Homo sapiens: one gene and its partners. The protein of the gene in region 2 purifies or fractionates together with the protein of the main gene of each other region. This does not show direct contact. Each region holds a gene or a part of one and is shown on either strand. Other genes may lie near its edges.

Evidence for each region.
Region 1: the proteins of TFDP3 (region 2) and KIF11 purify together in Homo sapiens (affinity purification with mass spectrometry; 3 studies listed by BioGRID and IntAct, with this or other methods). This does not show direct contact.
Region 3: the proteins of TFDP3 (region 2) and DNAJB5 purify together in Homo sapiens (affinity purification with mass spectrometry; 3 studies listed by BioGRID and IntAct, with this or other methods). This does not show direct contact.
Region 4: the proteins of TFDP3 (region 2) and ITPRID2 purify together in Homo sapiens (affinity purification with mass spectrometry; 3 studies listed by BioGRID and IntAct, with this or other methods). This does not show direct contact.

Annotation. Positions count from the first base shown.
Region 1 is NC_000010.11:92,596,114-92,603,141, reverse strand, and holds part of KIF11 (kinesin-like protein KIF11), read right to left. Parts: intron 6,284-7,028; exon of another isoform or gene 5,853-6,283; intron 1-5,852. UniProt on the Homo sapiens protein: Motor protein required for establishing a bipolar spindle and thus contributing to chromosome congression during mitosis. Required in non-mitotic cells for transport of secretory proteins from the Golgi complex to the cell surface.
Region 2 is NC_000023.11:133,216,162-133,222,766, forward strand, and holds TFDP3 (transcription factor Dp family member 3), read right to left. Parts: upstream 2,194-6,605; 5' UTR 2,099-2,193; coding exon 881-2,098; 3' UTR 501-880; downstream 1-500.
Region 3 is NC_000009.12:34,985,759-34,992,772, forward strand, and holds the start of DNAJB5 (dnaJ homolog subfamily B member 5), read left to right. Parts: upstream 1-3,986; 5' UTR 3,987-4,073; intron 4,074-4,531; exon of another isoform or gene 4,532-4,740; 5' UTR 4,741-4,872; coding exon 4,873-5,054; intron 5,055-7,014.
Region 4 is NC_000002.12:181,915,721-181,922,748, reverse strand, and holds part of ITPRID2 (protein ITPRID2), read right to left. Parts: coding exon 6,322-7,028; exon of another isoform or gene 6,150-6,321; coding exon of another isoform or gene 6,063-6,149; exon of another isoform or gene 5,912-6,062; coding exon of another isoform or gene 5,852-5,911; exon of another isoform or gene 5,744-5,851; intron 4,427-5,743; exon of another isoform or gene 4,279-4,426; intron 4,152-4,278; coding exon 4,074-4,151; intron 3,995-4,073; coding exon 3,867-3,994; intron 3,454-3,866; coding exon 3,303-3,453; intron 2,153-3,302; coding exon 2,087-2,152; intron 802-2,086; coding exon 337-801; intron 1-336.

The DNA of each region.
Region 1 (7,028 bases), on a different chromosome or scaffold from region 2:
GCAAGGGAGCCAGGCCCTGTAGATATTTTGGTGGAAAAAATTTTCAGGCAGAGAGAACAGAAATTGCAAAGATTCTGAAGTAAAAGCAGGTAGATGTATTTTTTAAATGTGTGTGTGAAATTAGCCAGGCGTGGTGGCAGGCGCCTGTAATCCCAGCTACTCTGGAGGCTGAGACAGGAGAATCGCTTGAACCGGGAGGCAGAGGTTGCAGTGAGCCGAGATCGCGCCATTGCACCCCAGCCTGGGCAACAAGAGCGAAACTCAGTCTCAAAACAAACAAAAAACCACACACACACACACACACACACACACACACGTGTGTGTGTGTGTGTGTTTAAGTAACCAGGGTTCAAAGACATCACAAGGAAAATTAGAAAATTTTAGAGATTAATGAAAATGAAAATACAACATACCAAAACTTACGGGACACAGCAAAAGCAGTGCTAAGGGGGAAATTTATAGCTATGAATGCTTACATTAAAAAGCAAGAAAGATCTCATATCAACACCCTAACTTTACAACTTAAGGAACTGGAAACAAAAGAACTAGTTATTTGTGTCTTCTCTCTTATTGTTGAAAGAGTATTTTCAACAATTGTATGCCAACAAATCGGATAACCCAGCTGAACAAATTCCTAGAAACACAATACTTACAAAGACTAAATCACAAAGAAATGGAAATTCTGAATGGAGCTATAACCAGTAAAGAGATGGACTCACTAACCAAAAATCTCCTGACAAAGAAAAGCCCTAGATCTGATAGTTTCATAGGTGAATTCTATAAAACATTTCAAGAAGATCTAATACCAGTTCTTCTCAATCTTTTCCCAGAAAAAATCTGGCAAAGGAGAGAACACTTCCCAACTCATTTTGTGAGGCAAGCATTACCCTGATACCAAAGCCAGACAAAGGCAACTACAAGAAAACTACAGATCACTATCCCTTATGAACACTGATAAAAAAAAATCCTCAACAAAATACCAACACATTGAACTGAGCAGCACAAGGATTATACACCATGACCAAGTGGGATTTATTCCTGGAATACAGGGATGGTCCAACATGTAAAAATTGATCAATGTAATATACCACATTAACAGAATGAAGGAAACCACAGAATCATGTCAATCGATGCAGGAAAAGCATGTGACAAAATTCAAAACCCATTAGTCATAAAAATGCTCAACAAACTAGGAATAGAGTGAAACTACCTCAACAAAATAAAAGCAACATATGAAAAACCCACAGCAAACATAATTGATGGTCAAAGACTGAAGAATGTTCCTCTAAAAACAAGAACAGGGCCAGCACAGTGGTTCATGCCTGTAATCACAGCACTATGGGAGGGTAAGAGTAGAGGATCACCCGAAGCCAGGAGTTCAGGATCAGCATGGGAAACATAGCGAGACCCCATCTCTAAAAAAAAAAAAAAAATTATTTTTTTAATTAGCTGGGTGTAGTAGTGTGTCTATAGTCCCAGCTACTCAGGAAACTGAGGCAGGAGGATCTCAAACAAACTAACAAATAAAAGAACAGGAGCAAGACAAGGATGCCCAATGCCCACTTTTGCCACTTCCATTCGACATAATACTGTAAGTTCTAGCTAGAGTAATTAGGCAAGAAAGAAAAACAAGGGCCGGGCATGGTGGCTCACGCCTGTAATCCCAGCACTTTGGAAGGCTGAGGCAGGCGGATCGCGAGGTCAGGAGATCGAGACCAGCCTGGCTAAAACGGCGAAACCCCGTCTCTACTAAAAATACGAGAAAAAAAAAAAATTAGCTGTTTATGGTGGCACATGCCTGTAGTACAAGCTACTCGGAAGGCTGAGGCAGGAGAATCGTTTGAACCCAGGAGGCGTAGGTTGCAGTGAGCAGAGATTGCACCACTGCATTCCAGCCTGGGCAACAGAGCGAGACTCCATCTCAAAAAAAAAAGGAAGAAAAATAAAAATAAAAGGCATCCAAATTGAAAAGGAAAAGGTTGAGGGCCAAGAGCGGTGGCTCATGCCTGTAATCCCAGCACTTTGGGAGGCCAAGGCGGATGGATCACGAGGTCAGGAGTTCAAGACCAGCCTAGCCAAGATGATGAACTCCCATCTCTACTAAAAATACAAAAATTAGCTGGGCGTGGTGGCATGTGCATGTAATCCCAGCTACTTGGGAGGCTGAGGCAGAGAACTGCTTGAACCCAGGAGGCAGAGGTAACAGTAAGCAGAGATGGCGCCACCGCGCTCCAGCCTGGGCGACAGAGCGAGACTCCATCTCAAAAAAAGAAAAAAAGAAAGAAAAGGAAAAAGTAAAATTATCTGTCTGCAGATTATATGATCTTTTATATAGAAAATCTGGCCGGGCGTGGTGGCTCACACCTATAATCCCAGTACTTCAGGAACCCCAAGGGGACTTGAGGTCAGGAGTTTGAGACCAGCCTTGCCAACATAGTGAAACCCTGTCTCTACTAAAACTACAAAAACTTAGCTAGGCATGGGCGCATGCCTGTAGTCCCAGCTACTCGGGAGGCTGAGGCAGGAGAATCGCTTGAACCCAGGAGGCAGAGGTTGCAATGAGCCAAGATTGTGCCACTGCACTCCAGCCTGGTGACAGAGCGAGAGTCTGTCTCAAAAGAAAAAAAAATAGAAAAGAAAGAAAACCCTAAAATTCAGTGGGGCAAAAGGAGCTAGAGCATCAAGAAGAATAGCTAGTGGATGCTGGGCTTAATAGCTAGGTGATGGGTTGATCTGTGCAGCAAACTGTGATGGCACAGGTTTACCTATGTGATAAACCTGCACATCATGCACATGTACCCCAGAACTTAAAAGTTGATGAAAAAAATAATAAAAATAAGGCCAAGTGCAGTGGCTCACGCCTGTAATCCCAACACTTTGGGAGGCCGAAGCGGGCGGATCACGAGGTCAGGAGTTCAAGACCAGCCTGACCAACATGATGAAACCCTATCTCTACTAAAAATACAAAAATTGGCCGGGCATGGTGGCGAGCGCCTATAATCCCAGCTACTCCGGAGGCTGAGGCACAGAATTGCTTGAACCCGGGAGGCGGAGGTTGCAGTGAGCCGAGATCACACCACTGCACTCCCGCCTGGGCAACAGACCGAGATTTCATCTCAAAAAATAATAAATAAATAAATAATAATAATAATAATAAACAGAAGTTCAATAGTTAATTAAAAAAAAAAAAAAGCCAGGCACAGTGGCTCACGGCTGTAATCCCAGAACTTTGGGAGGCTGAGGCAGGTGGATCACGAGGTCAAGAGATCGAGACCATCCTGGCCAACATGGTGAAACCCCGTCTCTACTAAAAATACAAAAATTAGCTGGGCGTCGTAGCGTGTGCCTGTAGTCCCAGCTACTCGGGAGGCTGAGGCAGGAGAATTGCTTGAACCTGGGAGGTAGAGGTTGCAGTGAGCCGAGATCGCGCCACTGCACTCCAGCCTGGCAACAAAGCGAGACTCCATCTCAAAAAAAAAAAAAGAAAAGAAAACTCTAAAATTACACACACACAAAAAAAAACTGTTAGAACTAATAAGTGAATTCAGCAAAGTAGCTGGATAGAAAGTCAACAAGCAAAATCCAGCGACGTTTCTTTTTTCTTTTTTTTTTTTTTTGAGACAGAGTCTCACTCTGTTGCCCAGGCTGGAGTACAGTGGCACGATCTTGGCTCACCACAACCTCCACCTTCCAGGTTCAAGCGATTCTCCTGCCTCAGCCTCCTAAGTAGCTGGGACTACAGGCACGCGCCACGATGCATGGCTAATTTTTGTATTTTTAGTAGAGACAGGGTTTCACTATGTTGGCCAGGCTGGCCTTGAACTCCTGATCTCGTGATCAGGAGTTGGGAGGCCCACCTTGCCTCCCAAAGTGCTGGGATAACAGGTGAGAGCCACTGCGTCCAGCCTCCAGTTACATTTTTATACACTAAGAATGAACAATCTAAAAAGGAAATTACAAAAACAACTCAATTTAAAATAGCACCAAAAAGAATAAAATATTAGTAATTAATTTAACCAAGGAGGTGAAAGACTTATAAAATGAAAACTATAAAACACTGCTGAGGCCAGGCGCAGTGGCTCACGCCTATAATCCCAGCACTTTGGGAGGCCAAGGTGGGTGGATCACCTGAGGTCAAGAGTTCGTGACCAGCCTGACCAACATGGTGAAACTTTGTCTCTAGTAAAAATACAAAAATTAGCTGGTCGTGGTGCCACATACCTGTAATCCCAGCTACTCAGGAGGCTGAGGCAGGAGAATCACTTGAACTCGGGAGGTGGAGGTTGCAATGAGCTAAGATTGTGCCACTGCACTCCAGCCTGGACAACAAGAGCGAAACTCCATCTCAAAACAAAAACAAACAAAAAAAAACTGCTGGCAGAAATTAAGGGGCATAAATAAATGGAAACACATCCCTTGTTCATGAACTGAAAGACTTAATATTGTTAAGATGCCAATACTACCCAAAGTGATCTATAGATTCAATGTAATCCCTATTAAAATCCCAATGACGTGTTTTACAAAAATAGAAAAATTCATCCTCAAATTCATATGGAATCCCAAGGGAGTCCAGATAGCCAAAACAATCTTGAAAAAGAACAAAGCTGGAGGACTCACACTTCCTGATTTCAAAACTTACTACAAAGCTGCAATAATCAAAACCATGTGGTACTGACATAAAGACAGACTTATAGACCAATGGAACATAACAGCACTTAGAAATAAGCCCTCTTACATATGAGCAAATGATTTTTAATAAGGTTGCCAAGACCATTCAATCAGAAAAAGACAAGCTTTTCACCAAATGGTGCTGGGAAACTAAATATCCATATGCAAAAGAATGAGGTTGGACCCTTATCTAACACAATATACAAATATTAACTCAAAATGGATCAAAAATGTATGTAAGACCTAAAGCTATAAAACTCTTAGAAGAAAACATAAGGCAAAAGCTTCACAACAATGGATTTGGCAATGATTTCTTGGATATAACACCAAAGATACAGGGAACAAAAACAAAAAGACAAACTGGACTTCATAAAAATTTAAAATGTTTGTGTATCAAAAGACAGCATCCCTGTGATCCCAGCTACCTGGAAGGCTGAGGTAGGAGGACTATTTGAGTCCAGGAGTTCACAACAAGTCTGGGCAATAAAGCAAGATACTATATTTAAAGGGGAGAAAAAAAAAATAGCCCAGGCACGGGCTCACGCCTGTAATCCCAGTACTTTGGGAGGCCAGGGTGGACGGATCACCTGAGATCAGGAGATCAAGACCAGCCTGACCAACATGGTGAAACCCCATCTCTACTAAAAATACAAAATTAGCCAGGCGTGGTGGCGCATGCCTGTAATCCCAGCTACTCTAGAGGCTGAGGCAGGAAAATGGCTTGAACCCAGGAGGCGGAGGTTGCAGTAAGCCAAGATCGTACCAATGCACTCCAGCCTAGGCAACGAGAGCAAAATTCCGTCTCAAAAAACAAACAAACAAACAAACAAACAAACCCAAGGGAAAAAAAAAGACTTTATCTTCCTTTTCTCCATCATAGTGCAAGATCAAGGTAAAAAAAAGAGAACTCTGGCCAGATGAGGGCTCACACTCATAATCCCAGCACTTTGGGAGGCCAAAATGGGTGGATCACTTGAGGCCAGTAGTTCAAGACCAGCCTGGCCAACAAGGCGAAACCCCATCTCTACTAAAAATACAAAAAATTAGCCAGGCATGGTGGTGCACACCTGTAATCCCAGATACTTGGGAGGCTGAAGCATAAGAATTGCTTGAACCTGACAGGCAGAGGTTACAGTGAGCCGAGACTGTGCCACTGCACTCCAGCCTGGGTGACAGAACGATTTTCTGTCTCAACATCTGTATGGAGGAGACTGGAGATGACTGACCCCAGCAGCCAAGGTGTTGGAGCAGCTCATAGGCCAGACCCCTGTGTTCTCCAAAGTCAAATACATTGTCAGATCCTTTGGCATCAGGAGAAGTGAAGATTGCCACCCACTGCACAAAGGGCCAAAGCAGAAGAAACCCTGAAGAAAGGTCTAAAGATGCAGGAGTGTGAATCAAGAAAGAACAACTTCTCAGATACTGGAAACTTTGGTTTGGAGATCCAGGAACACACAGATTTGGGTATCAAATGTGACCCATGCATTGGTATCTACAGCCTGGACTTCTGTATGGTGCTGGGTAGGCCTGGTTTCAGCACTGCAGACACATAGCACAGAACAGGCTGCACTGGGGCCAAACACAGAATCAACAAAGAGGCCATGCACTGGTTCCAAAAAGAAAAAGAAAGGAAAAGACCACACGGTATCAATGAGTAAAAAGGCAAACCACAGTAATGGGGAAAAAATTTTTGCCGTTTATGTATCTGAAAATATCCAAAATATATAGAAAATTCCTAAAACTCAACAACAAAAAAGCAAACCAATTTAAAAATGGGCAAAGGACTTAAACAGACATTTCTCCAAAGATACACAAAATGGCCAGTAAACACATGAAAAGATGCTCAACATCATTAATCATTAGGGAAATACAAATCAAAACTACAATGAGATAGCACCTCACACCCAATGGATGGCTACTTGAAAAAAAAAAAAGAAACAGAAAATAAACGTTGGTGAGGATGTGGAGAAATTGGAACCCTTATGCACTGTTGGTAGGAATGTAAAATGGTCCAGCCACTGTGGAAAATAGTTTGTCGGTTCCTCAAAAACTTTAAAATAGAATTATCATATGATCCAGCAATTACAATTCTGGGTAAATACCCAAAAGAATTGAAAACCCATATTCATAGCAACATTATTCATAATAGCTAAAAGTAAGAAGTAACTCAAGGCCGGGCTCCGTAGCTCACGCCTGTAATCCCGGCTCTTAGGGAGGCCAAGGCGGGCAGATCACAAGGTCAGGAGATGGAGACCATCCTGGCTAATATGGTGAAACCCCGTCTCTACTAAAAATACAAAAAATTAGCCGGGAGAGATGGCAGGCGCCTGTAGTCCCAGCTCCTTGGGAGGCTGAGGCAG
Region 2 (6,605 bases):
TGCATTGATTGCCGGCTAGGAGCCTTCAGCCATCCTGTCTTAGTTCGTTTTCTGCTCCTATAACAGACTGGGTAATTTATAAAGAAAAATAGATTTATTTGGCTTATGGTTCTGGAGCCTGAGAAGTCCAAAGCCATGGTGCCAGCATATGCTTGGCACCTAGTGAAGACCTTCCTGCTGTGTCCTAACATGGCAGAATGGCAAGCAAGCATTCAAGACAGAGGAACAGGGTTGAAATTATCCTTCTATCAAGAGTCTATTCCTATTATAACAGCATTAATCCATTGATGAGGGCACAGCCCTTATGGCCTAATCACCTCTTAAAGGCCCTACCTCTTTTTTTTTAAGATTGATGGTGTTTATTGTTCTGAAAATAGAATTCTGCCGTTTGCTTGGGGCTCTGGACACTGCAAAACTGAACAAATGGAAAACTCAAGAGTCTTGCTATGCATCAGTGGGGGTGCCATCCAAATCCAAGGCAAATAAACGGCATTCGGTACTCACTGTGCACAAAAGGAGAGCATTTTATTTTCATGGATGTGGATGAAGTACAATTTCTTCAGTAAACTCAGGAAAAACTGTTAAGGGGCAACAATGAACTCTGCATTTAAAGAAAAATAGAAAATGAAAACACAAAATCCTAAAAAGTAAATAAAGATTCTGTGTCAGCACACTGGTATCAAAACACACATCAACAGCACGTCTTAATCATACGGGAAACAATCCTTGCTTATCAGAGGTGCATATCTAAATTCTATAGCTTACCAATATCTTCTTGGGAGTAGGCAAAAAAGAAACAGAAAACCTCACATTAAAAAAAAAAAAAAAGTTTCTTTTCCCTAAATGTTTTCCTGAAGCTGAATCTTAAGGCGAGAGGACGTCAGTCATCCTCGTCATTCTCACTGAGGTCGTCATCGTTGTTGTCCTCCTCCTCTTCCTCCTCGACTGCTGGGGTCTCCACCCTGGAGCCACTGTACTGAGATCCACCGGAGCTTGTGGCCAGCATCCCAATCGCAATGTTGGTCAGGTCACTGGCAGAAAGCCACGTGCCATTAGACCTGGAACCTGCCGTCGTGAACACACCTCCAAAAGTTCCCTGAGCCATTTCTGTCACGTACGGCTCCAGAGCCTTTGGGACCAAATTTCTGGCCATTTTAAGGTCTTCGGCAGAGCAGCTCCCGGACTCTAGCCCAAAAGTCATGCCCATCCACATCAGCACTTCTGTGTCATCGTGGATTTCAAAGGAGCTGTTAAACTTAAACAGATATTCTGATTTGTCGTCGGAGATGCTGCAGTTGATGACGGTCTTCTTGCTACTGCTGATGATGATGAAGGGCACGTGGATGACTGAGTTGGGCAGCGGCCGCTGGCTGACCTGCTCCTCCACATACTGGTTTCTCAGCACCAGGTTCTTGAAAGCAATTTGCTGTAGAATAAGTTGTTGAAGTTCAGACTGTTTCTGCTTTATTCTTTCAAGTCTCTTCTGTCTTTCCACCCGTAAGTTCTGACAGTTCTGAGCCGAGTTGGTGGTCAGACCAATCCACTTGATCTTCTTTTTCTCCCTGGAGATGATATTCATGGCCATCAGCACGTTTAAGGCATCGTAGGTGCGCCGTTTTATGTTTTTCACGTCATAAGCTGACTCGTTTGGTGAGGCGTGGTTGCTGGCAGCTCTGAACTTGGCGACCAGCTCGCCCACCACTTCCTGGCAGGAAGTGGTCCCTTTCCTCTGCACCGTCTCCCAGACCTTCATGGAAAGACGGCACAGGCCCATGCCATTCTTCTCTCCTTTCCTGTTGTGCTGCCCGGCCCAAGGAGGTGAGGAGTAGGAATGCTGGTTCTGAGAGGCAAAGTGAGTGCTGGGTGGGTTTGGGCTTCCTACCACAGGGATGTTTGATGCTGCTGGTCTCTGAGGCATACCAATTACCACTTGCTGGTCAATGTTGACACTGGACTGTCCAAAGGTTTTCGGCAAGAGCTGCTTCCCGAGCGGGTTCACGGTGGAGGTGTGAACGGCCACGGGGCGGCTGGTCTGGTTCTCGTCCATTAAGACCTTGAGTTCTTCGTTAGCTTCAGTGAGACTGACATATTTTGCCATGTTAACAGATTTGGGAAATAAATGCTATAAATGTTCACCTTTCCAGAGAAGAAAAACAATTCTTCCAGGCCGAGTGTAGGGCTGCCGTGAGGTGCGTGGCGTAACGTGCGTGGCGTAACGTGCGTGGCGTAACGTGCGTGGCGTAACGTGCGTGGCGTAACGTGCGTGGCGTAACGTGCGTGGCGTAACGTGCGTGGCATAATGTGTGTGGCGTGTGGTACGTGGTGTGTGGTACGTGGCGTGTGGTACGTGGTGTGCAGTACGTGGCGTGTGGTACCTGGCGTAACATGCGCCACGTGAGGTGCGCAGCAGCAGGGGGGCGGTCCGTGCAGTGCGCCTGCGTGCCTTTTCACGCCTTCAGCCTTTCCTCCTCTGGCCCTACCTCTTAATACTGTTACAATGGTAATTAAGTTTCCAACACATGAACTTTTGGAGGACACATTTAAACCATAGCACATCCTAAAGGGACTGATGAAAATCAGACGTGTAGGCCTCTGCAGGCCCGTCTATCATTTCTTCTCAGCCATTGTCTCACAAGAAGCTGGATCTGGGCTCTTGCAAGGATTATTTCTTCACCTGCTGGTCAAGAAGCTTATTGTGGAAGAATCCAGTTTTTGTCTCTCTACCCAAACAGCTACACTAAGCCTTCCTGAGTAGATAGAGATGGGAAAAAGGAGTTAACAATATACAGTATCATTTATTTGTTGGGCTGTGGTACAATCAATAGACTAAGTCCACAGCCTACACCTCACTTTGGAAGCTACACACATTGCCAATGAGAAAGAAATCTAAAGAGAGAACAAGACAAAGCCCAGCAGAAGCAGAGGCCTGTGGCAGTCTCTTTCTCCCACCGTTGGTCTCAACTCTGCCTTACTCACCAAAAGTCCTAATAACCATGCCACACAGGCTCTGTGTCTTCAGGCCTGCTTCTCTAGTCCACACCAACTTCCTCTAGCACCTCGACTCTGGAAATAATGCATGTGATTGCACACAAGCATACACCTCAGCCTCAGATACACAGAGGTGCTGTCTCACTCACCTCGGGCTGCCGTAACAAAACACCATAGACTGGGTGGCTGAAACAATAGACATTTATTTTCTCACAGTTCTGGAGGCTAGAAGTCCAAGATCAAGTTTCCAGCAGGGTTGGTTTCTGGTGAGGGCTCACTTCCTGGCTTTCAGATGTCTGCCTTCTCACTGTGTCCTCACATGGCAGCAGGGCTTGGAGAGATCTCTTTTGACAAGGACACATCCTATCCTATTTGGGACCCACCCTTATGACCTCATTTAACCTTAATTACCTCCTAAAGACCCTATCTCCAGATACAGTCAAATTGGGGGTTAGGGCATCAACATATGAGTTTTAGTGGGTAGGGGGACAAAATTCAGTCTATAGCATTTGCTAAACAGAACCAGAGCTGGACAGTAGTGAAAGAGTAGTGAAATTGGGGGTTAGGAGTTCAACATATGAATTTTATTGGGTAGGGGGACAAAATTCAGTCTATAGCATTTGCCTAACAGAACCAGAGCTGGACAGTAATAAAAGAGGTAAAACAGATATTATTCAGGAACTATGGCAATGGGGCAAAAAGACCTCAGGATAGAACTGGGCTCAATTCTTTTTTAAGGCAGAGTCTCACTCTGTCACCCAGGTTAGAGTGCAGTGGCACGATCTAGGCTCACTGCAACCTCCGCAATCTCCGCCTCCTGGGTTCAAGTGATTCTCCTGCCTCAGCCTCCTGAATAGCTGGGATTACAGGCTCCCGCCACCACGCCCGGCTGTGAGCCACTGCACCTGGTCTGGGCTCAATTCTAAATGCAGTAAATGCAAGAGGATTTATAGCCAAGGAGCAGAGCAAAGTGGTCAGTGGATGAAAAATTACTAAGAAGATACATCAAGGGTAGATGAATTCTTGTTAAACCAACTTAACAAGATTCTTGCTAAAGGTAGGCTGGGGTGATCAGATATCAAGGGTGGGGAAGAAGAGTGTGATCAGATATTGAAGGTGATTGGATATCAAGAGCAGGGGATTCTCACTAAAGTGACTTAAGCTAAACTCCTGCTAAAACTAGACTTAGCAAGGATGAGGTCAAAAAGAGGGCTTAGAAGAGCCTGTCTAAAGTTTAATTAAGGAGAGAGTTTTAACCCCTCTGGTTCGCCCCAAATTTATGTTTTCTCACATGCAAAATGCATTCATTCCATTCCAACAGTCCCCAAAGTCGTCACTCTTTCCAGCATCAACTCTTAAAGTCTGAAGTCCAAAGTCTCATCTAAATATCATGTAAATTATATATTGGTGAGACTAAGGTAAGATTCATCCAGAGACAAAATTCCTCTCTAGCTGTGAACCTATGAAACCAGACTAGTTATGTGCTTCTAAAATACAATGGTGCCAGAGGCATAGGATAGACATTCCCATTCCAAAAGAAAGAAATCAGAAGGAAGAAAGGGTAGTGAGTCCCAAGCAAGTCCAAAACCTAGCAAGGCGAATTCCATGAGATCTTAAGGCTCAATAATAATCCTCTTTGGTTAAACACTCTACCCACCACTTGGGTGGCAGTGTCACTTTCATGGCTCTGCTAGGGCCCTGCCCCTTCAGTTATCAGAGAGGGTCCAGCCCAAAGGATTGTCTATAAAGGCTGCCTTGCCCCTGAGGCACAGGGCGGGGTCACCCTGGCCCACTGAAACTGGAGAGGTGGTATCACCCTTTGAAACTGAGGTAGAAACAGCCTTGCCCCCTGGGCCTGTGGTAGAAGTGTCAGCCCTGATTATCTATAAATGCCTTCATGGTTATTCTTATTTTTCCTTGAATAACAGTGCAATTAGCAGCCAAATAGGTAAATGGTCTGCTCCTGAGAATCCAAGAACTTCAAAAGTCTTCCTTCATTCTGTGTAGCTTTCTCTGTCTCCTTTAGTTCAAACTAGTGTTTTTGCTCATATAATCCCACTTCTATTCCTGGCTTCCGCTGAGATGGCTGATTATACTCATGAGTCCCACCCACAATCTCTTCATCAAATGGTTGTCCAGCTGTAGGGTTAGTGTTCTCTTCAGGACAAGTTTCATTTTTTGCAATATGGATAGGCTGAGAATATTCCAAGTTGTTAAGTTCTGGTTCCTTTTTGCTTAACAATTCCTTCTTTAATTCATCTCTCTCTTCTTGCATTTTACTATAATTAGTCAGGAGAAACCAAGCCAATCCCTCAACACTTTGCTTAGAAATCTCCTTAGTTAAATATCCAATTTCTTCACTTTCATGTTCTAACTTCTGCAAAACACTAGGACACAGTTCAGCCAAGTTCTTTGCCACCATATAACAGAAATCACCTTTCCTCCAGTTTTCAGTATCTTGTTCTTTATTTCTCTGTGAGACCTTACCAAGATTGCCCTAAATGTCCATATTTCTAGGATGTGCTGCAAGACTCTAGCCTTTACTCATTACCCAGTTCTAAAGCCACTTCCACATTTTTAGGTATTTTTTACAGCAGCACCCCACTTCTCAATACCAAAATCTGTCTTATTGTATTTAGATTACCATATCAAAATACTGTAGACTGGTGGCTTAAACAGCATACATTTATTTTCTCACAGTTCTGGAGGCAGGAAAGTCTAAGACCAAGGTTCTAGCAGGATTTGGTCTCTGGTGAGCACCCTCTTTCTATCTTGCAGATGGCTACCTTTTCACTGTGTTTCTCACATGAAAAAGCGAAAGGAGAGAGAGAGAGAGAAAGATTGATTTCACTTATTATAAACACATAGTCCTATAAGATTAAGATTCCACTCTTATGATTTCATTTAATTTTAATTACCTCCTAAAGACTCTATCTCCAAATATAGTCAAATTGGGTGTTTGGGTTTCAGCATAAGAATTTTCAGAGGATGCAATTTAGTTCATAGCAGGTGCTCTGCTGGTTTTTTTCTCACTGCCCTGTGGTAGCTGCAGACAGGTAGGCTTTGCTGAACTCATTAAGCATTGGTAGAACTTCTCAGAGGCTTTGCTCAGAACATAAGGCCCCAACAGAGCAAAAAATGGCTCCTGACATCTAAGTGTTGACATGCTTACCAGGCCTCATCCAGGCTTCCCACTCTAACATTTAAGAGGCCCAGAACAAGAATACAAACAGAGCATATGCCTGATAATTAAAAATTATAAGTCAAAGCAAAAAAAATTGTTAAATATGTTCTATCTTCTATTTTGACAACTATACCTTTATAAAAGCAAAATCGATATGTGTAAAGTGATGGTTTTAATATTATTGAAAGCAAAATATCAAAGATGACTGAGTTTAATTATGACTCTGCATGTCTGAGTGTTCTTATGGGCTAGCAATATATGGATGAGTAATAATGTAAAGACATACATATTTCAGGAATTATTTTGTATTCCACAAAATTAATTTTTGTCACCTTCAGCAAAAATCAGTTATTCATTGCTGTAATAGTAAATTTTCACATAATGTATAATTTTCAGTCATGATCCAAAGCAGAGGTCAGCAGACTTTTTCTGT
Region 3 (7,014 bases), on a different chromosome or scaffold from region 2:
TGTCTCTACCAGGACAATAACCAGGTTGTGTCTCAGGCTGAGGTCAAAGTTGGGACTCAGTGTGGGACCAAAGTCTGGGCCTGAGTGTCAGCATGAAGCATGTATCAGGTGAGATGCTCAGAGTCTGATCACAGGAGGGAGGCCATCTGCAGCCAAGGTGATGGGTCAACGTGGCATTCCTACACCCAGGAGAAAGCATCAGGTAATGAGTACCCAGGCACTGGAGAACTCAAGAACAAACATGGAGACTGCCCAGGGGAGAGATATGAGGGACAGGGGACAGCAGGAGATAGTCACTCATTTCTTTTTTTTCTTTTCTTTTCTTTTCTTTTTTTTTTTTTTTTGACAGGGAGTCTCGTCTCACTCTGTCACCCAGGCTGGAGTGCAGTGGCGCGATCTCGGCTCACTGCAACCTCTGCCTTCTGGGTTCAAGCGATTCTTTTGCCTCAGCCTCCTGAGTAGCTGAGATTACAGGCATGTGCCACAACACCTGGCTAATTTTTTTTGTATTTTAGTAGAGATGGCAGGTAGTCACTAATTCGTAAGGCCCTCCCAACTTTAAGGATGGTGATGGGTAGGCCAAGTAGCCCCCTGTTCCTCAGTATTCTAGTATCCCAGTATTCTAGTTCTGGTTTCCTGTTAAAGCCCCCGCTCCTGCTCCCACACACACACTAGTACTACCACATACAACTCATAGGTACAACTGGGGGAGAGAAGTGGCCCAAGGGCCAGTTCTGTCACTGCAGGGAGGTGGCAGCTGTGAGGGTAGTCTTCCTTCCCCCCAGGATTCTCTGTTTCTACTGGCAACAGGGCCTGGCAGCCTCCCACACCCAGATCTTAGCAACCATGGGAACCCCTGGCAACCATTACCATGGTGACAAGACAGGGAACTGAAAACAGGCTGGGGGCACTTCCTCTGCAGCCTTCGGGATGTGAGCAGGATAGGGGCTCCCTTCCCTATACAGTCTGGGAGGGAACATGTGCCTCTGTCTAAAACACCTCCTCACTGGCACCCACCCCCACCCCTGCCCACGGGTTCCGGTTCCCTCAGGGTGAGGAAATGAGGGACACCTAGGGTTATGACGTCTCCAAGGGGAGGGAGGGTGAGTGGGGGCGTTTGGGACTGGCATGATCGCAGATGCGTGCATACGCTGGCAGACATGGTGTCAATGTGTCAGTGCCTATATACCTTATCCACTCTTTGTCATGTAGACACATGCCCGCACAGTCATTTACTCACACATGTACACTGACCCAAAATCATATACCTACAACATATAACAGAATCAGGCACACCACCACACAAAAATAACTGCACAGATCCACTCACAAATCACATTACCAGTACCACACTACAAATAACTCCCAGACTCACAGATTTATAGATGCACTCGCACTCCCAGCATCTGTGAACATGTAGAGTAATGGTTAACTTGGTTGAGTTAACCAAGTTAACCATTGGTTGGGTATAAACTACATGCCCAGCTCAGAACTAAGTGCACTACCTGTGTTACCTTAATTAACCCTCTCAACAACCCCCTGAGGCACCAATCCCCATTTACAAAGGAGATGAGGCATGAGTGTGGCGTGTAAGCTCACAAGGTGCATAGACTCCAGACCACACTGTCACAGTCCATGCCACACTGAGCACTACACACACGTGACACCCAGGACAATGGGACTGAGGGCGGGAACCGAGGACTAGGCAAACAGTGGAGTCTGTGCCACCAACACCTGAAGGCACAGTTCTGCACCCTCAAAGGTCCGAGCCTACACTTTAGCATTAGCAGGGGCCAGGTAAAGGCTGGTGACTAAACTCTCTGCCTCCGTGTTGGCACAGGCAAGGCTGGGGGAGGCAAAAGAGACAGAACTGGAATAGGAAGAAGTAGAGCCACCCACAGCCTGGGCCCCACAGGTGTGGAGGTGGAAGAGTGAGAGCCCCCAGATCTGAGGAGCCAGCAGCGGTGCAGGGCCCCTCACCCCACCTTACCCATCTCTGTGTCACACAGAGATGTCCATCCCTCCTCCCTCCCCTCCCCCTTCCTCACTCCTCCTCACCCCATCTCTGTGCCTCATCCTTTCATTACTCACCCCTTCTTTCCTCATCCCTCACCCTGCCTTCCTGCCCCTCCCCAGCCCTTCTTTCCTTATCCCCCACCCTGCCTTCCCTCCCCTCCCCAGCCCTCCTTTCCTCTGCCCTCCTTACTCCCACCCTATGGCTCATCTGCCCCATGCCCCTCCCCTCCTCATCCCCCTCACCCCATCTCACCATCCTCTCACCACCCCCTCTCCCTACCTCCCCCCCTCAACCCCATTTCCTCAAATTCCTCATGCTCATTTCCCCACATTCATCACCCATCTCTGCTCCCCTCCTGGCCCCCAACCCCACTTCCTTTCCATCCTCCTTTCACCCCAAGTCTCTTTCTTCCTTCACACCTCATGCCCCTTTACCCTTGGGAGCCCCATAGTGACTCCTGGCATGAAGGTAGGTAGTGAAGAATCTACAGACATGACTCCAGGACCCTGGCACCCCCCCCCCGCCTTGCTCTGCTCTTGGCCCAGGTACTCAAGCTGCAGTTTCTAGCAAGACCTCATGGGTGTCCAAACTCTGTCTCTGGAAAATAGGAAAGAAAGAAGTAAAGGGGAGCTTCCGGCCTGACCCTTCTATCATCATCAACCCCCCAGCACTCCCCTCCCCCACTTCACCCCCAAATTACTCCCTCCCCACCCCCGCTCCCTCGAGCACAGATGGGCCTGGGAGACAGTGACGTGGGCGCCAGGCACCGTGTCTGCTGGAGTGGCGGCTTCCGCTGGCGACCGCCTCCGCAGCCCCGCCTGCTCCCTGCATCGGGGACACTGGGGCTGAGATCTAATGACTTAATGGGGGGTGGGGGAGACTAGAGATTCTGAGGGTGTTAAGGAAGGGGATCTTGGGGAGTGAGATGAAAGATGAAAGGGGAGAGCTAGGATAGGAGATCGGGGTGTAAAGAAAGAACCAAGAATAAGACAAAAGGGATCACTGCGGGAAGGAAGACAGGAGATCATCTAGGGCCAAGAAGGAAAGGGCTAAAACACAGGCACTCCAGGGGGAAGCAGGATGAGAGACTGATTAGAAGAGGGACTGAAATGGAGACCGCGGGGTCGCTGAAGAGGGGCGCGAGGATGAGGGGCTGTACAGAGGGTGGGCGGGGGAGATTCCTGGAGGCACCGGCCTGGGCAGAGCCATCCGTTTCCCTCGGGGGAGAGGTCCGGGGGGCTCTGAAACCCGGCATCCGTGGGGTCTGTTAGAGATTCCGTTAGGTCACATCAGGCCACCGCGGGGTCAGGATAAGGTAAAGCTAAATGAGGTCAGCTTGAGGTGGTTACACCGTTGGCTGAAAGGCGAGTAAGAAGTGCTGACCTTTTGGCCCCGGTCCAGGGACTACACCTCCCAGAGTGCACTGTTCTCTCCCTCTTGCCCCCCAATGAAGAAAGGAAAGAATGCACGGCCGCACGGCCAACTGGTGGGTACAGTTTTCCTTTAAGGCTGCCTTTGACGTCGCAAGGGTTCCAGAAGGTTCTCCTGGGATTCGAGCAGTGGCCAGTACGTCCCACCTTCTCAACCCGGAGATTGGACTAATATAGTTTGCCCCCGGGCTCGGGTCTGAGTCTCAGGCACGAACCAATAAAATCAAAGGGCGAGCGAGGTTGCCGCCCTCTGTCTTTTTCACCAATGGCACGACAAGATGGCAAAGAGGCGTGGTTGAGTGATCCCAGAGGGCGCCAATCAGATCCACACCAATCACTGCCTGGAATGTGTGCGCGTGTGGCCGGGTGACAGGGGCGGAGGATGGGCGGCTATCACCAAGCCGCTTGTTGAAAACTGCCCAATCACAGTGGAGGCTGAGCTGAGTGACAGGAAGACGGTTCAATGGGCGGCGCGGAGGCGGAGCCGTGGGGGCGGGCTCCCGGTCCCGCTATCGGCGGCCGGCGGGCAGGCGACTCCTGTCCCGGGTGGAGGCGGCGGAGCCGGAGCCGGGGGAGGGGGCAGCGGCTGTCTCACGGACCACGGCGGCGCCCGCAGCTCCTCACCGGTGAGGGCGCCAAGCCAGGACTCGGGGGTCCCGGGAGCGGGGCGTCGTGAAGCCAGGGCTCCTGGTGTTGGGGGGTTGGGACACTGAGGGCCCGTAGGCTCTGCTGCCTTGGGGATGCGGGGCCCCGGGGTCTGCAGGGTGCTCGGAGTCCTAGACCAGGGCTTGGCTGTCACAGGGGGCAGCCAGCGTCTGAGTCGGGGAGGGGAGGGGAGGGGAGGGTCGAGTCGGACCGGACCAGATTGGGTTCTGTGGGGCGGAGGCATCTGTGAGCAGACCAGCCAGCCAGCGCGGGTGACATCACCGACCACCCTCCCCCGCCCGAGCCCCCTCCCCTCCTCTCCTCGCCGCGCCTTTTGTCCCGGCCGAGCTCCGCTCTGCCCCGCCCATCTGCGAGGGAGGAGACTCCCGTCAGTGACTTCATTGAGTAGGTTCTTGGGGATTGGGGTCGGGTCCTCCCCAGTGAGAGGCGACAGGAGCTCACTGCCTCTCGGGCCCTCACAATCACACCTGTCACAGGTATACACGCTGCCACTCACAAACACACGCTTGCACTCCCAGCCTCACTGACACGCTGCCATACAGCCGCTCACAGCCAGCCAGACACTGCTGCACCTGAGAGCAGGTGGCCGCGGGTCTTCTCCCTTCACTCTCCACATTTGGGGATCAGGTCCGGCACCTGCTGCGCCAGACAGGCCTTGCTGGGCACGCGCCTCTGAGAGTCCAAGGAGGTGGCTTCCAGAGCTGCAGCACTTCAGGCCGGCTCCGGTGGAGCGATCAGAGGTGAGGGGCTTGGCTGGGCATGTTTAAGCGCACAGTGCTCTCCTGCCCACCCCCAGCAGCACCCCCACTGCAGGCCCGAGGAGCTTTCCGGAGCTTCCCACACTCCTGGGGAGAAGACTTCTTAGCCAGCTTGATGTTTAAAATTCAGCTGGAGCCCTTAAAACTTCGAGCGTGGACGCTGAATGGGTTTGTAAAGTTTCGGTAAGTCCCTCCGGAGAAGGGCACTCACACCCATACCCAGTCAAACCCTCCACGCGGCCATCCCCTCCATTGCCTTCCTGCTTCCTCCAACTCATCCTCATCCCCTCTGTGACATACAGGAACCCCCCTCCGGCCTCACCCACATATTTGAATGAATTGCACCCCTTATCATTCCTTTTCTCAAACCCTTCAGGTATCCATTTTCCACAGACATTTCCTCCATTATTTCAACTCTCCACATTCCTCCCTTTCAACCCATCATTAACCCATTTTCCACCTCAGCCATTTCCATCTGTCACTCATCCCCCTCCATCAGTACCTCATTTTCTGTATCAGCCATCTCCCCTCCCTGTACCTCAACAGTCCCCCTCGCCATTTTCTCCCCATTTTTCCTTCCTGCCTCTACCTTAACATCCTCCTCATTCTTCTCCATCAAAGGCAGTGCCATGCCATGGGGCTCCTTTGTCATTCCAACACGTGGCCTGTGGGTAGGGGGGAAGGGAAGGAGGGAGGAAAGCAGAAAGAGAAAAAGGAGGCAGATCCTGAAAGAGCTTGCCCTGTGTCTGCGGAGGCAAGAGATGTATGGGCCTAGAGCAGCTAGCAGGTGGGTACCAGGGAGGAAGCTGGCCGGGTGTGGAGGTAATGCAGGGACACCAAAAGGAGGTGGGTGGTTGGTGAGCCGTTCCACTGGCCCTCTGCCTGGAAGCTGCTCTCGTTCTCTAGGGGCACCCTCTTGGTGTGCTAGGGTTCTTTCCCAGTCCCAGGGGAAAGAAGGTGTGGGTTGAGGCAGAAATGGCAGACCACCCCCCCCCGCTCCCTCTCAGACGGCTTTTGCTGCCATTTCCGAAAACGGTTGCCCCCCCCCCCAACGAGGTGCTCTTTCTTCTCTGCCTCTCCCAACCCCACCCCCCACCCCATCTCCCCCACAGACGTGACATGCTGGTGGGGGGCAATGGGGGAGTACCCGCCTTTGTGGAGCCTTTTCTTCGTCAGAGAAAGGTGACTCCCAGAACCATGAGTCAACCCAGCCACCTGCAGCAGGGCCTGTGGGGGCAGCAGTGAGGGCCATTGTCCCTGCCCACCTAGGGCCTTGGGCGCCTCCCCCTTACCCGGTTACAGGCCTCACTCCTGGAAGGACACCCTGTACACCTCCCTGCTGTGAAGCAGTCAGAGGCAGAAAGGCAGGTCTCAGCTGTGGCTGCCAGCCTAGGACATTGCTAGAAAGACTCTGGTTCTCCTGGCTTTGGCAGGGGTTGGCCAAGTCTCAGAAGGGCTGAGAATGGCTTCTGGCCATCCCCCAGAGAGCTCTAGCTACAGGAAAGTCCCCCTTCCCCTGATATCCACCACAGACACACCGATAGAGGGAGACTGGAATGGAAGAATTCGGGTTGTACGTTTCTCTTATAACAAATGCTCCTGCACCCACCTTAAAAGGGACTCAGAGGAATATGGGTCTGATGATGGGCCGGATCCTAAACCACAGGGTGGACTGGGGGCGTAGGGTGAGGCTAGGAGAGGTATTAAGGAAATGGTGGTTGGTTAGTGCCCAATTGTCTCCTAACAGCTGGGGTTGAAAAAGTCCTGTCCCCAGGATGCTTTTGTTCACTCACACTGGTGCTTAGGCGGCACAGCCCTCACAGTTTTGTGTGTAGACGCTGGCAAATGAGTAAAGGGAACTGTTGCCCTGGTTGGGGGAAGGATAGTGTCGCCCCCCCTGCTAATGAGGGAGTTGGAAACAGCAGTTTCCAAAGGCTGTGAGTCACCCTGTGATCTGAGTCACACGTGAGGCTTAGCATCGTCAGAGGGGTGGGGGCGGGGAGGCCTGGGGTCTCCGATGGCAGACAGGACTCCAGACACCCATTCCCTGACTCAGTCTGGCTGGCCAGGACAGCTGGCGGAAGACCCAGGCCTGTTCCCGGTCCTGGGCCACTGCCCCAGCTGCCCTCAGCCTGGGCACCAT
Region 4 (7,028 bases), on a different chromosome or scaffold from region 2:
GAGATCTAAACTGTAAATCCTCATTTTGTAGATGTGGAAACAAGAGGTCCAAAGAGTACGTCATGTTTATTTTGAGTCCTTCACATATCTTTTTCACCATACTGAACACAGAGAATTGTAATTATTTCACATTAGAGTATGAAATTTGCAGAAATGCCATTACAAATATATCTTAATTGACACAAACTTGATCAACAGGAAAGCTAATTTAAAAGCTCTGTGAAAATTATTGAATACAGTGAATCAAAAGAACATTCTGTAAATAATTAATATTCAGACAAAATCTCCTCTAACATATACCTCCAAATAAATGAATGAAACACAGATTTTACCCACCTCCCGTATGACTTGCTGCAACTCATCTTGCTCCACATTTTTATGCATTTCCTCAGCAGCTGGCATTGATGGGAGTTTTCCATGCCCTTCTTCCACTTCAGATTTAGGTCCTACAACTTCTGGGGCTCCTTCAGCTGCATCAACTTCCTCAGAACTTTCCAAATCTGGAGGTGTCTGCACAGAGCCTGTTCTAGAAGGAGCTGTTGGCGTTAGAGCCACCGATGCTCGGAACACTTTCTTCCTTGCCACTAATGGGGTTTTGGATTTGCCCACTGAGGCAGTAGAAGGTACTCCAGTTCTTCTGTTAGCATGAGAGGGACCAGAACATACAGAAGATGATTCTGATGTTGCTTGGGAAAAAACAGATTCTGAGCTTTCTCCAGGAGGAATTTCAAATCCCATTTCTCCAAGTCCCAGGCCCAATTCAGACTTCAGGTATGACTGCTCCTGCATCAGTTCAGTGACCTGGAGATCATAAAAAAATGTTATTCTTCTCTCTTGGAATTAAGATTGGTAGCTAAAAAGGTTAAAGTCCTGGTTGTCATTATTGCCTAAAATCATGTAATTTGTAAAGACATAAATCTATTCCATTAATTTAATAACTACTCAATTTTATTTGCAAAAATGGTAAGTAAAATTTAAATTCCTATTGAGATGAAGCAACAAAACAGGTAAACAGAATACATAGTAGGATGAAATTTTACTTGTTACCACCAAAGTGTCCAAATCACTTGTAAGGAAGAGTAACTAGTGAAAAATAGTTACTCATAGTGCTTTTGCCCCCAAATGAACCAATCTGTCTAACACAATAAAGACAGATTTCTGTTAAAAACGTGGTCATGTTACAGCTCTAACTACCTAAAGAACCAGGATCAAACTGTGAAAGCACATGTCTCCTGAAATGTAAATTAAAAATCAATTTTCTTTTTTTTTTTGAGATGGAGTCTCACTCTGTCACCCAGGCTGGAGTGCAATGGCTTGATCTCGGCTCACTGCAACCTCCGCCTCCCGGGTTCAAGCAAGTCTCCTGCCTCAGCCTCCCAAGTAGCTGGGATTACAGATGCCTGCCACCATGCCCAGCTAATTTTTGTATTTTTAGTAGAGATGCGGTTTCACCATGTTGGTCAGGCTGGTCTTCAACTCCTGACCTCAGGTGATCCACTTGCCTCAGCCTCCCAAAATGCTGGGATTACAGGCATGAGCCACCACACCTGGCTTATTATTTTTTAAAGACAGGGTCTTGCTCTGTCACCCAGGCTGGAGTGCAGTGGCACAATCATAGCTCACTGTAGCCTTGAGCTCCTGGCCTCAAGCAATCCTCCCGCCTCAGCCTCCTGAGTAACTGGGACTACAGGCACATATCACCATGCCTGGCTGATTTTTAAATTTTCTGTAGAGAAAGGGTCTCATTTTGTTGACTAGGCTGGTCTCAAACTCCTGGCTTGAAGCAATCCTTCCACCTCAACCATTTAAATAAAGTGCTGGGATTACAGGCATGAGCCACTGTACATGTTTTTATGGTGCATTACCTCCTTTAGTCAGAAAGATAAATCACTATTGCAATTCAGGTGGCTTTCTAGTGGCTTCAGACAGCAATGGACTTTCAAAGGTGAAAGTCACTTCCAATCAACAATAATTTATCAAATTATGTATTTAAAATAAACATATATTTCATCTAAACTAGGGAAACTATGTGTCTGAAATGTTGTATCATTCCCTTCCCCAGTGATTTAAGAGGAAAGAAGCTTACTGGTTCCATTACATTCAATGGAGAAGGGCATGACAAGTTATCAGCGCTTCTACTGCCACACATTCCCTGAAAAGGTAAGAACAATATATATATGTATATGTGTGTGTATATATACATACATGCATATATAATTATAATGTACATATATATTTTTTCAAATCACAAGACTTTTATAATAAAATTAATTGGCTAATTAGTGCCTGGAAGCATCCCTTTATGTCACAAAGGTTACTCTCAAGTGTCACAGATCCCATAAAATGCATTATTGTGAGTTAAAACTGATACAATATGCAAAAAGGATGTTCTAGTTCTCCCGTCACCAACATACACTTCTCAGAATGATAAATCAAAACCATGTTGAAAAGTACATTCATTAGCAATACAGAACATCCTTAGTCTATGCTATACATATATGTGTTTATACACCATTGTTTATTCTACTTCATTTATAGTATATACACACATAATTGTATGTGTGTATATTCATCCATTTCTTTTTAACAAAATCAAATACATTGTTAAGGTAACAAAGAATAATTCACTATTTCAGCATTTCAAAGCAACATATTCTACAACTTCAAAGATATTTGCAAAAATAATACAACTGTTGAAGTTCAAATGTTATGGAAAGAAACATTAGAAGTATGAAAAGTGGTACAAAAACATGTTTCTTTTTATTCTCTTGGATATATATCTATATATTTAGGAAAATACATATATGTATGTGTATGTATATATATGTATGAAAATATACAGGTATCATTTGATTCCTTTAAAAACAAATGGAAAAGAATCCAAAATAAAGAAAAAGTTTAAAAGGAACACTTTTTTATTTAAAGGCATGAAAGAAAAAAAAACAGCAAAATATGCATCTGTGTTCTCTGCAGTTACATGCAACAATTAAAATTTACATTAGTCATATGTTAATTCACTAGCATTTTTCCTTTAAAAACCCTCAACTTTCGTATAAGCCCTTATTCTTTCCTGTTATTAAAATTTATCATTAAAAATTTTCAACATATTTCTAAATATACTATTTATGACAATTATTACAAATTGTACATTCAACTGATTTGTGGGAAAGCTCCTTAAACAGTATGCATGCTTTTAATACCATTAAAATAAATGACTTGAAATGAAGGCACACGTCCTAAATTATTGGAACATTATAAATAAACCTTTGGTGAAAACTCCGACCACCCTCCAGGTAGCGTACCATGAGTGCGGAGGAGCGGAAGGGTGAAGGCATGCGCACAGCACGAAGCTGCTCCTCCAGGCCCAGCAGGCGCTCCTCCAGCTGCAGTTCCAGGTCCTGAAGTTCCATTCGGACTGAATTTCTCAAACCCTGGAGCTGATCAACTTCAAACCTATTGGTATGGTGAAGGGCACAAAATTGGAAAAATGCAGTTTGGAGATTCCTAATCACAAATCTTTCAACAACTACTATATGCTAACAGAAGGCATGGAAATCTCAGGTTCTAGAAATTAGTACAATATCAACTACAATAGGTGTATCCACAAGGACATTAGTCTTTCTTCCCCTATCCTCTCACAAATATCTCAAACACGGGAAAGCAGGTTACCACTACCCTTAGGATATTGAAGGCATACAAGTTTACTTAGTAAAACACTATCTATGACTAATCTTATCTACACTGGTTCACAAAACAGATACAAGGTACACAGCAGTAGAATCAAAACCTAATTTTAAAAAATATAAGTTGAGAAGACTTTGAATGAAAAGCTTTTTGAGGTGTGCTAAGACAAAATGAACTTTTACCTCTCCTCCTCAGTCATATGATGATAAACCATGGTTTGCTGACGCAGCATTGCCAATTCTAAATCCATCATTTGTGTTCTAAACAAATTCAGGCTCCGCCTCATTACCTGGAGCTCCTGAAAAGTATTCTAGAATGCAATATAACAAAATTACACTTCTAAATTCTACAAATTATTTTGGAACACAAAGATGTAAGAAAGAACTTACTTCATAAAGAGGTAGAACAGATGATTTCTGAGTACTATATGGAGCAGCAGCAGGATCAGGTCCTCTCATCATAGGGTACTTCAAAAAAGTAAAAGTAGGATTAAAACCAATGTTAAAGTGAATACTTCCAAATCACTTAAGGGGTTAAAAGGCAGAATTTGGGGCCTATATATTTTTCTCTTTAAGACAAAAGGATCCAAAAAACCTTCATATTGTAAGCAGGAAAAAAGAAATCAGTTCCCAATGACACCTAGTACTGCTAGCTGTTCCAGGTATAAGTCAATCTACGTGGGAGGAGGAGGCGAAGGAACATAGTTCACATCTATTTCTTTCAGGACTTCCCTCTTGCGAAACTAAAAAAAAACAAAATCAAAACGCAAAAATGTAGAAGCCATTGCAAATATCATCATGAGATTATAGTGATTATTAACTTTGCTGGAGAGCAAGCAATCATTGTCGTCTTTCTCAGACATCTTAGCATTTCCTATATGCCACTATTTTAGGCAGTGAGATAAAAACATAAAAGGTATTCCCAGCCTTCAGGTGTTCTCACAGTGTAAAGAAAAATAAAGGAAATTTTAAAAAAATTCTAATACTGTGGAAGGAGTGCTATGATGAACACAGAAAAATTCAGATTACGTGAACTTTCCCAAAAGTGGTAACACTACTTGAACTGAGCCTTAACAGTAAATAGGGCTTGATTATGCAAAGAAAGGCAAAGACTGGGTGATCTCGGTTAAAAAAAAGTGGCTTATAGTCCCAGTACTTTGGGAGGCCAAGGCAGGAGGATCACTTGAGCCCAGGAGTTCAAGACTGCAGGGAGCCATGATTACACCACTGTCTCCAGCACTCCACGTGGGCGAGAAACAGAAACTTCATCTTTTTATTTTAAAAAAACAAAACACAAAATCAGCCATGTGCAGATACCTAAGAACACACAACTGTTTAGAGACCTGTGCACAATCCTACAGCTAAGGAATGAGGCTGGAGAGATAGTCAGAGACCACATCATAGAAAGCACCTGTCCACTAGTGTAGGGTGGGGTAGGCATGGGGAGATGTATTAGCTGAGTTATTGCTGGGATATCCAGGAGAAAGAGACCACAGCTGGAGCAGAAGAACTAGGTGGCCTAGAAAGATGCACCACGGTACTGGTGGACAGGGTCCTGGAAATCCCCAGCTTGACATAATCACAGCTGCAAGTTCCATCACAGACAGAACTATATTTTGTAAGGAGGAATAAGAAACACCCACATTCTGTTTAAACAGAAAACTGTTAGGGGACAATTGTCATGAGGATAAAACTTACAGTTAAGAGGAGGTATATCTTATTATAACTTGAGAAGTTACACCTTTGATTTTTACTTTCCAAGTGGCTCCCTGTCTACTATGTCATGATAAGAGGTCTATTACATTCATTCTAGGCCTCCTGACTCTTTGTTGAATGCTCTCATGACTATATTACATTGTCATTTTCTTCAATCCCTCAATTGTCTAAACATGATTCATTCAGAGAGAATGTTCAAGAAAATGTAAAAGGCAAAACTGAAGACAACGTACTTATTTTCAAAATTTTTTTGGGAAAATTATTTCCAGTCTACTAACAAATCTGAGAATGACTTTAAAAGTGACAAGACATACAGAGCATTTTAAATCAAATTCACACTTTACCTGATTTGTTATTTTCTGGTCTGGAGTAGTTCCAGTCTTTGAGTCCAGTGGAAGTAGACTAACTCTGTGCACAGCATCGAGGGTCAGTAGGTGAAGGGGAAAGCTTAGTCAGAGAGCTACGAGCAGAACCAGGAGAACGTGGTGCCACAGAAGCCAACAGGGAGAAAACTTGGAAAAGGAAAAGGTAGTCAACATGTTCAAATAGCAGAGAGAAAGAGAGAAAGAACTTTAAGAGGGAAGATTTTTTAATAATAGAAATGACAAAAGATTCTAGACTAAAACAAAGACAGTGGATGATAGACTAAAAATGGGAGGATACTTAACGAGAAAAATCTCTCCTCTTGGAAAGGAGACAGACTTGTGAGCAGAGAAATCGACTTTGATCAGGGTTAGTTACAGCTTCTCCCTTGAAACAGGAGGGAAGATAGAAAACGAAGGCAGATGCAGATTAAGTTTAGACATGTCAGAAAATAAAGCTGAGGTAGTTCATACTTGATGTGCCTTAGCTTCTCTGTGAATTAAAAAGTGCTCAGAGCAGTAAAAGAAAAAAGCTAATGATAACATACTTTTTCTCATACCTGTGAAAGATTCTGCAGTGAGTTTCTAATATCATGTAATACTCTTCGCAACTGCATTTCTATGGCTGAAGGAGGATTCACAGAGCACACTCGGTAAGGGTAGGTGGCATGTCTATGTGAGTAAGGACACCCGAAAGGGGAAGCGAAGGCACTACAAGTAGCCCCTGATATGTTGGGAACACTGTGAGTGCTCAGAGTTCTTGTGTGCTCACACAGGGGCCTTTCTTGCCACTCAGAGTGGATGGAATGAAGGGAACAGGTAGACTGAGACATTGGTGGTGGAGCAAGCCGTGAACAGGTAGGAGTCCTTCCATGATGGCATTCCTCCACCCGCGGCGCCTCACTCTGGGGGGCTTCTTCTTTCTTCACAGATGATGGAGAGATGAAAATGGTCGATTTAACTAAAGACTGACCATCATGTTCCATCACCCGCTTTTCCAATTCCTGCTCCTCTTCAGGTGTGTACTTATAGGTGAAGGAAGGTGGGCTGCATCTGGTCTCTTTTCCTGGAGATAATCGAACATTGACAGAGGACACAACCCTTACTGGGCTCAATAAGGTGGTTGGTAAAGACTGAGACCTTCTTAGAGGATAGCCAGCTTTTGCAAATAAGTACCTTTGTTTTAACAAATCTTTTGATTTTAGCAGGCTACGCCCCATCCTTTGATTAGACAGACTGCAAACCTTCATTTGAGCTCTTTGCAAAG